Linked DNA regions of Homo sapiens. The protein of the gene in region 1 interacts with the protein of each later gene in a biochemical or structural test. Each region holds a gene or a part of one and is shown in the gene's direction. Other genes may lie near its edges.

Region 1 (3,746 bases):
CCTCCTGAGACTTCAGCCTCATTTCTTGCCCCCATGTCGACCCCATTGTGTACCACTGTGTACCTTTAAACCCCAGCTGGATGCTTAGGTGCTGAACGCAGGAGCCCTTCCTGACTTCCTCTACGGAACTTCGAACATGTGATACCCCTCTGTCCAGAAGGCTCTTTCCCTCCCTACTCCAGTAACCTGCACATTTTCACTGAATCTTCAGATTTCACTTGGACACAACAGCCTTCACTAAGTGAGGTACCTGCCCTATGTTCCACTGGGCCCTGGGTTTCCCTTTTTTTTTTTTTTTTTTGAGACGGAGTCTCACTCTGTTGCCCAGGCTGGAGTGTATTGGCACGATCTCGGCCCACTGCAAGCTCCACCTCCCAGGTTCACACCATTCTCCTGCCTCAGCCTCCCAAGTAGCTGGGACTACAGGTGCCCGCCACCATGCCCGGCTAATTTTTTGTATTTTTAGTAGAGACGGGGTTTCACCGCATTAGCCAGGAGGGTTTCCCTCTTTTAAGGTACTTAACTCCCTAGATCCTAGATCCATCCACTTTTCTCCGTCTCTATTGCCACCTTGTAGGTCCAGGCCACCACCATCTCTTTACTGGAATTCTGTAAACTCCTGACTGCTCTGCTTCCACTCTTGGCCCCCTAGGAATCCACCAGAGTGATATTTTTAAAATATAAATCATTCTTTCAAATGTTTCACATTTCACTTAGCAAAAACACTTCAGCCTCCTGGACGTGTTCACAGTCCTCCATGACCTAGCTAGTGCCTTTGCTCCTTCTGTCTCATCTCAGACCACTGGGCCCAGAAGCTGCGGACGCCTTCTCCTATTCCCTGAACACACCACTTAGTCTGGCTTAGAGCCTCTGCGTTTGCTGTTGCTTCTACTGGATCCGCTCAAATGTCACACCCTGAGAGTGTCACACACTCTCTTAACGTCCGAAGAGCAGTTGTCACTCTCTGAAACCATCTATTTGTTTATTTACAGAATAATTACCTTTATCTCACCCTGCCCTCACTTGCTCCCTCCACTTCTAGCAAGTAAGCAGGGAGCCTGGCTATCTTGCTGCCATCACTGTGTTCTCCAGCACCTGGCTTGGTGCCTGGCACAGAGGTGTTGCTCTGTATTTTCGGATGAATGAATGCATAGGAACTAGAGAAGCCTAGATGGATCCGGCTCTGCCTTACTCGCGGAGTTTGGGCAAGCCTGTTTCCTGCTGCGTGAAGTAGGGGGTGGAGGAAGCGGGGTGTTAAGCTACAAGGTGTTGATTAGCTGTAAGATTTCAGCCTTGTTTTCTCCGTAGTCTTCGGGCTGGAGCCAGCCACTTGACGTCCGGCGCCTCAGCTCCCCACCTGTATAATGGGTGTGAACTCATCCCGAGGTCTAGGGGTGGTAGCGCTGCCTTATAAGGCGGCAGAGGCCGAGGGAAGGCGAGGCCGAGTGGGTGGAGAGAAATCACAACATCCGGCTGCGGGGGCTGGGCGGGGCGCCTGCGGCGACCGGGCAAGAGGTCGGGGAACGGCTGCGAGGCCGCAGCCTCCTCCCTGTCTCTCCCTCTTTCGATGTGCGCCCTCCTGATTGGGGCCGACCCAAGGGAATACGGCCACACAAGTGGACCAAACAAACTCGCTGCCAGCCCGCAGGAGGCCCAGGATACGGAGCGCGTCCCCGACAAAACCCTAGAAAAGCCGTCTGCGAGCCAAAGGCCGCCGGGCCACACCTTCAGGCGACGACCCAATCAAAATGCAGTACTTGAGATGACGGACGTCTTCTTCACCCAATCACATATTCGGCCTCCTGGGCGTGCCCCAGAGTACCCACCTCCATTGTCCCGGCTGAGGGCTCGGCCCTAATTGGCAGTTTGGTATCCTACGAAAGCCTAGAAATTCGAACCTAGGGGCTGAACCCCGCCCTCAGACCAACCAGGAAGAGGTGACGTGATTGGTCCCGCCCCCGTACTTCTTTGAGCGAGTCCCCAGCTGGGGGGGCGGGGGAAAAAATGAAGAGGAAGACTAATGGGAAGACGGCGCGGGGAGCTTCTGCCCGGTGATTGGTCAAATGAGGTAAACAGAGGGCGGGGCAGGGCGGGCCAGCGCCGGGGTGGCCCCCGGGAGGGGGCGGAGAGTGCGCGGCTGGCTGCGGCGGCCGGGGAGGCCGGGGAGGCCGCGGCGCGGTCACTGCGAGCCGAGCCGAGCCGCGCCGAGCCGCGCCGATCGCCATCCGGCCTCGGCACTCGCGCGCGATCCCGGCCGGCGGCGCGGCCCGGCGGGCCAGGCGGCGCCACAGCCCATGGAGCTCGAGAACATCGTAGCGAACACGGTGCTACTCAAGGCCCGGGAAGGTGAGGCGGCCGGGTGGGCGGCCGGGCCCGGGTGCGTGGAGCGCGAGTGCGCTGCGTCTGAGCTCCGCAGGGCTACCCAGCCGTCGGATCCCCTAGGCCCGCGGGCCCTGCGCCTTACACCCCGCCCAGACACGAGCCTTTCCGGCCCGTCGTCTTCCTCCTCCGCACCTGCCCCCGGGATTCGGGGCCCAGGAAGGGGCGGGGGTCAGGCCGCCGCCCTCGCGGCGGGTGGGGGTGAAGGAGTGAAAGAAGGTGAGACGAAGAGGGAAGGGTGGGACCGGAGCCCCAGGAGAGCCTGTCTGAGAGGCAAGCCTCCTCCAGGGGAGAGGTGTAAAGATGCCCCACGTGCCAGGGGCCCAGACCCCAGCACCCTAGCCTAATCCCGCGCAAAGTTGGCGATAGGTAAAGCTGGAGAATGAATAAACGGACCCTCTGCGTAGCACAGCCCACCTGACTTGGGGAAACTCCTGGCCACAAATGCTACTTATAGGACTGCCACTTGCTCCGTGCCTCAGGACACTGAGGGCAGAGGTGAATGGATATTTGCCCTCAGGGAGCCCATGGTCTAGTGGGGCTAGCGGACACAGAAAGAAGTGGGAGCAGAGCATGCTGCTCTGTCAGTATTGTAAGCTCAGAGGTCTGGCTGGGGAAACCAGTCTGGTGGACCGAGTGTGTGTGTAGCTCCTCGTGGCTCCCACCCCAGATGTTATCAGGCACTTGCTCTGTGCAGGTCCTGGGAGACACAGAAGGACCAGATCGGGTCCTCACTGCCTTGTGGTCAGTCTGCCCCCACCTGCCACACTCCACCTCAGTAACATGATCACTGACCACCCACTCTGCCCCACCTTTTCCAGGGTGCTGGGGAAGCAGCAGTAAACAAGACCCATCTTTTTGGAACTCCAGGGCAAGGAGGGAGATTGTGACAGTTTTTCCACCCTTTGCTGGGCTTCCAGGCTTAAAAAGTCATCTGCTTCACCTTTCTACCATATTTTACATGTGGGAAGCTGAGGCTCAAACCAGGGATTAGCATCAGTCACACAGCAAGATTGTGATTGACTCGGGCCTAAGACACAGGATGACCGGCACAGTCTATAGGAAGCCCAGAGGAACTTTCAGCTGGGTGCTACACCTGGCACCCCGTGCCCACCAAGTGCTCTGGCGAGGTGCAGCCCAGAAATGGCATGGCAGGCTGGGTCCTCATTGCCTGGGGAGCCTGTCTTATCCCCTGTCCCTTATCGAGCCCATGGGCTAGGCCTTCCTCCCAGCCTCTGGGGGCATCTGCCGATTCTGTTCTGCCTCGTCATCCAACCAGCCAGGGAGGAGGGGTGGGGAGGGCCGAAACAGGCCTTCTTCCCTAGGGCTGTAGCCAGTTAAGGCCTCAGGCCTGCTGATGGCACTGC
Region 2 (3,746 bases), about 29 Mb from region 1:
TGGTCCATAAATGTTAACCATTGTTATGTTATTATGTAATCTACAAAGTACGTTTAGTTACACTTCATGAAATACTTTCAGTTTTTCAAAGACACCACTAATACATGGGAAATCAAACCCTGAAAATTAATTTCACTTTAGCAGTAAAGTCACATGCCAGATGGAAAGGATAGTATTTCATGAACAAAGATCTTACTTTTGAGATTTGGTCTTACTTTTTTCTTTTTCTTAAGGGAGAATTATCTTGTGTTTTTTGTTTTGTTTTGTTTTGAGATGGAGTCTTGTTCTGTCACCCAGGCTGGAGCGCAGTGACGTGATCTCGGCTCACTGCAACCTTCACCTCCCGGGTTCAAGAGATTCTCCTGTCTCAGCCTCCCGAGTAGCTGGGACTACAGGTACGTGCCACCACACCTGGCTAATTTTTGTATTTTTAGTAGAGACAAGAGTTACACCATATTGGCCAGGATCTTTTGCTTTCTATAGCTTCAAAATGTTCTTAATGTTAAGACATTCTTAATACTCTGAACCATATGAATTTGCCATTTTGGTAAGTCACAGACGCCAGATGGTGGCAATTTCACATGGCACAACCCGAAAGATTAACAAACTATCCAGCAGATGAAAGGATTTTTTTTAGTTTCATTGGGTTTACTGAAGAAATTGTTTGAATTCTCATTGCATCTCCAGTTCAACAGATAATGAGTGAGTGATGCCACACTCTCAAGAGTTAAAAACAAAACAACAAAAAAATTAAAACAAAAGCACACAACTTTCTCTCTCTGTCCCAAAATACATACTTGCATACCCCCGCTCCAGATAAAATCCAAAGGGTAAAACTGTCTTCATGCCTGCAAATTCCTAAGGAGGGCACCTAAAGTACTTGACAGCGAGTGTGCTGAGGAAATCAGCAGCTGTTGAAGTCACCTCCTGTGCTCTTGCCAAATGTTTGAAAGGGAATACACTGGGTTACCGGGTGTATGTTGGGAGGGGAGCATTATCAGTGCTCGGGTGAGGCAAGTTCGGAGTACCCAGATGGAGACATCCGTGTCTGTGTCGCTCTGGATGCCTCCAAGCCAGCGTGTGTTTACTTTCTGTGTGTGTCACCATGTCTTTGTGCTTCTGGGTGCTTCTGTGTTTGTTTCTGGCCGCGTTTCTGTGTTGGACAGGGGTGACTTTGTGCCGGATGGCTTCTGTGTGAGAGCGCGCGCGAGTGTGCATGTCGGTGAGCTGGGAGGGTGTGTCTCAGTGTCTATGGCTGTGGTTCGGTATAAGTCTGAGCATGTCTGCCAGGGTGTATTTGTGCCTGTATGTGCGTGCCTCGGTGGGCACTCTCGTTTCCTTCCGAATGTGGGGCAGTGCCGGTGTGCTGCCCTCTGCCTTGAGACCTCAAGCCGCGCAGGCGCCCAGGGCAGGCAGGTAGCGGCCACAGAAGAGCCAAAAGCTCCCGGGTTGGCTGGTAAGGACACCACCTCCAGCTTTAGCCCTCTGGGGCCAGCCAGGGTAGCCGGGAAGCAGTGGTGGCCCGCCCTCCAGGGAGCAGTTGGGCCCCGCCCGGGCCAGCCCCAGGAGAAGGAGGGCGAGGGGAGGGGAGGGAAAGGGGAGGAGTGCCTCGCCCCTTCGCGGCTGCCGGCGTGCCATTGGCCGAAAGTTCCCGTACGTCACGGCGAGGGCAGTTCCCCTAAAGTCCTGTGCACATAACGGGCAGAACGCACTGCGAAGCGGCTTCTTCAGAGCACGGGCTGGAACTGGCAGGCACCGCGAGCCCCTAGCACCCGACAAGCTGAGTGTGCAGGACGAGTCCCCACCACACCCACACCACAGCCGCTGAATGAGGCTTCCAGGCGTCCGCTCGCGGCCCGCAGAGCCCCGCCGTGGGTCCGCCCGCTGAGGCGCCCCCAGCCAGTGCGCTCACCTGCCAGACTGCGCGCCATGGGGCAACCCGGGAACGGCAGCGCCTTCTTGCTGGCACCCAATGGAAGCCATGCGCCGGACCACGACGTCACGCAGGAAAGGGACGAGGTGTGGGTGGTGGGCATGGGCATCGTCATGTCTCTCATCGTCCTGGCCATCGTGTTTGGCAATGTGCTGGTCATCACAGCCATTGCCAAGTTCGAGCGTCTGCAGACGGTCACCAACTACTTCATCACTTCACTGGCCTGTGCTGATCTGGTCATGGGCCTGGCAGTGGTGCCCTTTGGGGCCGCCCATATTCTTATGAAAATGTGGACTTTTGGCAACTTCTGGTGCGAGTTTTGGACTTCCATTGATGTGCTGTGCGTCACGGCCAGCATTGAGACCCTGTGCGTGATCGCAGTGGATCGCTACTTTGCCATTACTTCACCTTTCAAGTACCAGAGCCTGCTGACCAAGAATAAGGCCCGGGTGATCATTCTGATGGTGTGGATTGTGTCAGGCCTTACCTCCTTCTTGCCCATTCAGATGCACTGGTACCGGGCCACCCACCAGGAAGCCATCAACTGCTATGCCAATGAGACCTGCTGTGACTTCTTCACGAACCAAGCCTATGCCATTGCCTCTTCCATCGTGTCCTTCTACGTTCCCCTGGTGATCATGGTCTTCGTCTACTCCAGGGTCTTTCAGGAGGCCAAAAGGCAGCTCCAGAAGATTGACAAATCTGAGGGCCGCTTCCATGTCCAGAACCTTAGCCAGGTGGAGCAGGATGGGCGGACGGGGCATGGACTCCGCAGATCTTCCAAGTTCTGCTTGAAGGAGCACAAAGCCCTCAAGACGTTAGGCATCATCATGGGCACTTTCACCCTCTGCTGGCTGCCCTTCTTCATCGTTAACATTGTGCATGTGATCCAGGATAACCTCATCCGTAAGGAAGTTTACATCCTCCTAAATTGGATAGGCTATGTCAATTCTGGTTTCAATCCCCTTATCTACTGCCGGAGCCCAGATTTCAGGATTGCCTTCCAGGAGCTTCTGTGCCTGCGCAGGTCTTCTTTGAAGGCCTATGGGAATGGCTACTCCAGCAACGGCAACACAGGGGAGCAGAGTGGATATCACGTGGAACAGGAGAAAGAAAATAAACTGCTGTGTGAAGACCTCCCAGGCACGGAAGACTTTGTGGGCCATCAAGGTACTGTGCCTAGCGATAACATTGATTCACAAGGGAGGAATTGTAGTACAAATGACTCACTGCTGTAAAGCAGTTTTTCTACTTTTAAAGACCCCCCCCCCCAACAGAACACTAAACAGACTATTTAACTTGAGGGTAATAAACTTAGAATAAAATTGTAAAATTGTATAGAGATATGCAGAAGGAAGGGCATCCTTCTGCCTTTTTTATTTTTTTAAGCTGTAAAAAGAGAGAAAACTTATTTGAGTGATTATTTGTTATTTGTACAGTTCAGTTCCTCTTTGCATGGAATTTGTAAGTTTATGTCTAAAGAGCTTTAGTCCTAGAGGACCTGAGTCTGCTATATTTTCATGACTTTTCCATGTATCTACCTCACTATTCAAGTATTAGGGGTAATATATTGCTGCTGGTAATTTGTATCTGAAGGAGATTTTCCTTCCTACACCCTTGGACTTGAGGATTTTGAGTATCTCGGACCTTTCAGCTGTGAACATGGACTCTTCCCCCACTCCTCTTATTTGCTCACACGGGGTATTTTAGGCAGGGATTTGAGGAGCAGCTTCAGTTGTTTTCCCGAGCAAAGTCTAAAGTTTACAGTAAATAAATTGTTTGACCATGCCTTCATTGCACCTGTTTCTCCAAA
Region 3 (3,746 bases), 800 kb from region 1:
TACTTATACATAAAATATAATTCCCTTTGTATCAAAATTGGCTCATTCCACACATTCCAGTTTGGCACCTTGCTTCTCACACTTACCACCACATCTTGGCACACTCCCATGTCAGCACACATGGGTCTAGCTCATCTTTGCCAACCATAGTGTGGCATTGCACTGGGTGGATGTGCCACAGTTAGCTAGCCAGTCCTGTACAGATGATCATTTAGATCATTTTCAGTTTTTTGCTACAAAAAAACATGCTACAGTGAACATCCTTGCACAGGTATCTTTGTGTGCATGTATGGCTAGAGTCGCACGGGATCAATTCCTGGAAGGGGAGCTGTTGGCTCCAAAGGCGCATGCATTTATGCTTGGTAAACATTGCCAGATTGCCTTCCAAAATGTCTGCGCCAATTTGCAGTTCTACCAGCGGCCTGTGAATGTTTTTTGTTTGGTTGGTTGGGTTTTTTCCTTTTTTTTTTTTTTTGCAGTCTGGCTGCTGGTGGCCCCCTCGCCTAATTACCTGTCACTTACACACCCTGCATTTCTGGCCACAGTGCCTTTGCCCATGCTGTACCCACAGCCTAAAATTCTCTTTCTCCCTAGCCTGCTCGATGAAATAGTCCCCTTCCTGTCAGGCCACAGTTCAGTTGTCACCTCTTTTTTATGTCCTTTCCTGACTCCCCTAAGTTGTCAGAGTCCCTTTCCTCTGGGATACTACAGCTTCTTGGGCATAATTCTATCATAGAACCAACTGAGGGCCTACTGTGTGCCTGGCATTCTGTGATCATTTTGACAGTCCCCACCGTAAGCACACAAAAAAGTGGTTTTGTTCTCCACCTCCCTCCATCCTGGCTCTCCAGCTGCGCTGTCTTTTGTCAGCACAGTCCTGCCTTGGAGCCTTTGCACTTGCACTCTCTATGGATCTTGTCCTCACCCATCGTGGTGTCATGGTGCCTCTCTGGAGTCTCTGCTACAATTCACCTGCTGGTAGAGGCCTTCCCTGAGCACCCTGTCTCAAGCACCCCTCCTCTAGTCCCCGTGTTACATCACCGTTACCTTCACAACTTACAAGCTGTAATGACCTTGTTGCTTTGGATGTTGATCCGTTTATTTTCTGTCCTGTCTTCCACCACTGAGCGCACGAACACACACGCGTACAGACACCCCCATGGTAAGCTTCCCGAGACCAGGAACCTTGTTTTCCTTTTCCGCTGCCTCCAGCCTTAAACCTGCACCACTGGACTAAGCGCTCAGTAAACATTCGTTGAATTAACCATTCCTGTTTTACAGAGGAGGAAACTGTCATTCAGAAAGGAGAGCCGAGTAGCTCAAGGTCCCACGGTTAATAAAAAGCACAGCTGAGATTCGAGCCCAGCAGAACTCCAAATCCAGTCGCGTGATTTCTTCCCCACTCTTCACACGCCGCGTTGTCCCCCTCCCTCAACTCCCAACAGACTACGCGAGTCTTACGGCCGGGGCCCCCAGGGGCGCGTCCCGGGCCCGCCCCGGGAGGCTCATCGGCTACGCGCTGTCACCCTCCCCGCCCCCTGTCAGTCAGGCCGAAGGGGCGGCGCGGCCGCCAGCGGGGGCGCTGAGCTCAGAGCTGCCGCAGCGCCGGAGCCGGAGCCGGAGCCGGAGCGCGCGAGCTCGCAGGGCGCGAGGAACGAGCGGTGGCTGGCTACGCACCCGAGACCCGGGCACTGCTGCGCTCCTGCTCAGGACCCGCGACCCGAGCGCCTGATCCCGGCCCTATCCCCCCTCCGGCCCCTGGTCCACCCCGGCCTGGCCTAGCGGAGCCCCCGCGTCCGCCCGCCGCAGCCGCCGCTCCATCCCCAGCCCCGGCCCCGCATCCAGGTGAGGCGGCCGCGCGCCGGGGATGGGGAACGGGATGAGGATGGAGAGGGGACTGGGGCGACAGGAGGGAGCTGGGGAAGGGGATGGAAAATGGAGGGAGACCCGGGGGATGCGCGTCAGTGTGCACCCCGGAGTATGTGAGTATGCTCCGGTGTTTGCAGCTGCCCGGGCGGCTGTGGGGACGTGTGTCCGCGCCCATGTGGGTCGGGGTATTCGTGCGCGTTGGAGCGTCTGCGTGTCCTGTGTGTGCACGTGAGCTTGTCCGTGGTGTATGTTTGTGTGCATGACCGTGTGACTGTGCCGTGCGTGTACAGGCGGGTCCTGGATATTCGCGCCGAACCCAGCACTCCGGTTCGACGGGGCTGCAGTTTGCAGGGCCCGGATAACCGAGGCAGTGGCCCCTCCCGCGTCCCCAGGTTTCAAGGACGCTAGGACTCTCCGCGGCCCTGAGGCTTCGCACTGGGGAGTGGGGTGGGATGGGGGGAAAGCGGGAGGGGGCTCAGGGTCCAGAAGGGCGCCGCGGTCTCGGGAGTAGGGGGGCATCTGCGTCCCGCGGGAGGGGCTGGGGTGAGAGTGCGGGGCCAGTGCACCGGTGCCCGTGTATCGCCCTCCCCAGGCCGCCAGGATGGACGTGTTCATGAAGGGCCTGTCCATGGCCAAGGAGGGCGTTGTGGCAGCCGCGGAGAAAACCAAGCAGGGGGTCACCGAGGCGGCGGAGAAGACCAAGGAGGGCGTCCTCTACGTCGGTGGGTAAGGGGCGGGGTTTCTGGGGCTGCAGGGCTGGGGGTCCCCCGACAGTGTGGAGCTGGGGCCGGGTCCCGGGGAGGGGGGTTCTGGGCAGGAGAATATGAGTCAGCAGATGGGGCGAGGTCAGCAGGGGTCATAGGGGACATAGCCAGCCCATAGAAGCCTGGGTCTGTATCCGGAAATGGGGACACGGGGCGGGCTGATGAGGTGGGGGGCTCCAGCTGAAAGGCCAGGGACCAGTGCAGTGATGAAAGCAGACAGCCTCCTTTTTCTTATCTTTTTTACCATTATTAATAGTTATCTGGTGTTGAACACTTTCTGTATGCCAAGTACTGGGTAAAATGTCATAACATCCATTTCCTCATGTAATGCTTCGGCCCATTCTACAGGTAAGGGAAACTGGGCTTCCCAGAGATCTAAGTACCTTGCCCAAGGTCAGCAGCTGGTAAATGCTGAAGCTGGGGTTTGAACGGAGCTTTATAGATTCTGAAGCCCCACCCCTCCCCTTGTGGCGCCTCCCTCCAGCACCTCCAAGGCCGAGTTGAGTTGCGTTCCAGGTCCACCTGCATCACAACTCTTGTGGTTTTACCTTTGCCAGCTCTCTTCCCCGTCCACTTTCCTTGCAACCACTGGCTGGTATCAGAAGAAAGGCCAGGGTTGGATAACTTGCCCAGGGTCGTGGCATATTTGGATTGTGGCCATTTGAAAAATATTTTGTGTCCACTTACTATGTGCCAGGCATCCTGCAGATGCTGGGGTTTCACAGTGAACAGGAAAGAATGGTTCCTGATCTCCTGATGGTGATACAGAGCATTTCAGCAGTGCGAGTTGACATCCAGTGGCTCCCTGAAGAGAATGCCTCATCCCTGAGTAATAAGAGGGGGGCAGGGCTGCAGAAAAGCCAGGTGCAAAGGCCCTGGGGTGAGCTGGGGGCAGGGCAGGAAGTAGTGGTAGGAGGTGAGGTCAGAGCGATGGGCAGGAGACAGTTCACGAGGGCCCTTTGCAGGCCAGGGCAAAACGTTGTTATCATGGCCACGAGAGACTGTAAGCAAGGGACTGCCATGATGTGATTAGTTTAGAACGGTCACTTGGGCCTCTGGGGACAGAAAAACTGCAGGGAGGCCTGATGAGGCCACAGGATGAGGGTGGCAGGG

Evidence for each region.
Region 2: the proteins of GRK6 (region 1) and ADRB2 form a complex in vitro, tested with the Homo sapiens proteins (2 studies listed by BioGRID, with this or other methods).
Region 3: of the proteins of GRK6 (region 1) and SNCB, one has a biochemical effect on the other in vitro, tested with the Homo sapiens proteins (one study listed by BioGRID).

Annotation. Positions count from the first base shown.
Region 1 is NC_000005.10:177,424,552-177,428,297, forward strand, and holds the start of GRK6 (G protein-coupled receptor kinase 6), read left to right. Parts: upstream 1-2,124; 5' UTR 2,125-2,294; coding exon 2,295-2,346; intron 2,347-3,746.
Region 2 is NC_000005.10:148,824,903-148,828,648, forward strand, and holds ADRB2 (beta-2 adrenergic receptor), read left to right. Parts: upstream 1-1,708; 5' UTR 1,709-1,929; coding exon 1,930-3,171; 3' UTR 3,172-3,721; downstream 3,722-3,746. UniProt on the Homo sapiens protein: Beta-adrenergic receptors mediate the catecholamine-induced activation of adenylate cyclase through the action of G proteins. The beta-2-adrenergic receptor binds epinephrine with an approximately 30-fold greater affinity than it does norepinephrine.
Region 3 is NC_000005.10:176,628,379-176,632,124, reverse strand, and holds the start of SNCB (beta-synuclein), read left to right. Parts: upstream 1-1,590; 5' UTR 1,591-1,845; intron 1,846-2,159; exon of another isoform or gene 2,160-2,316; intron 2,317-2,461; 5' UTR 2,462-2,470; coding exon 2,471-2,591; intron 2,592-2,624; exon of another isoform or gene 2,625-2,686; intron 2,687-3,746. UniProt on the Homo sapiens protein: Non-amyloid component of senile plaques found in Alzheimer disease. Could act as a regulator of SNCA aggregation process. Protects neurons from staurosporine and 6-hydroxy dopamine (6OHDA)-stimulated caspase activation in a p53/TP53-dependent manner.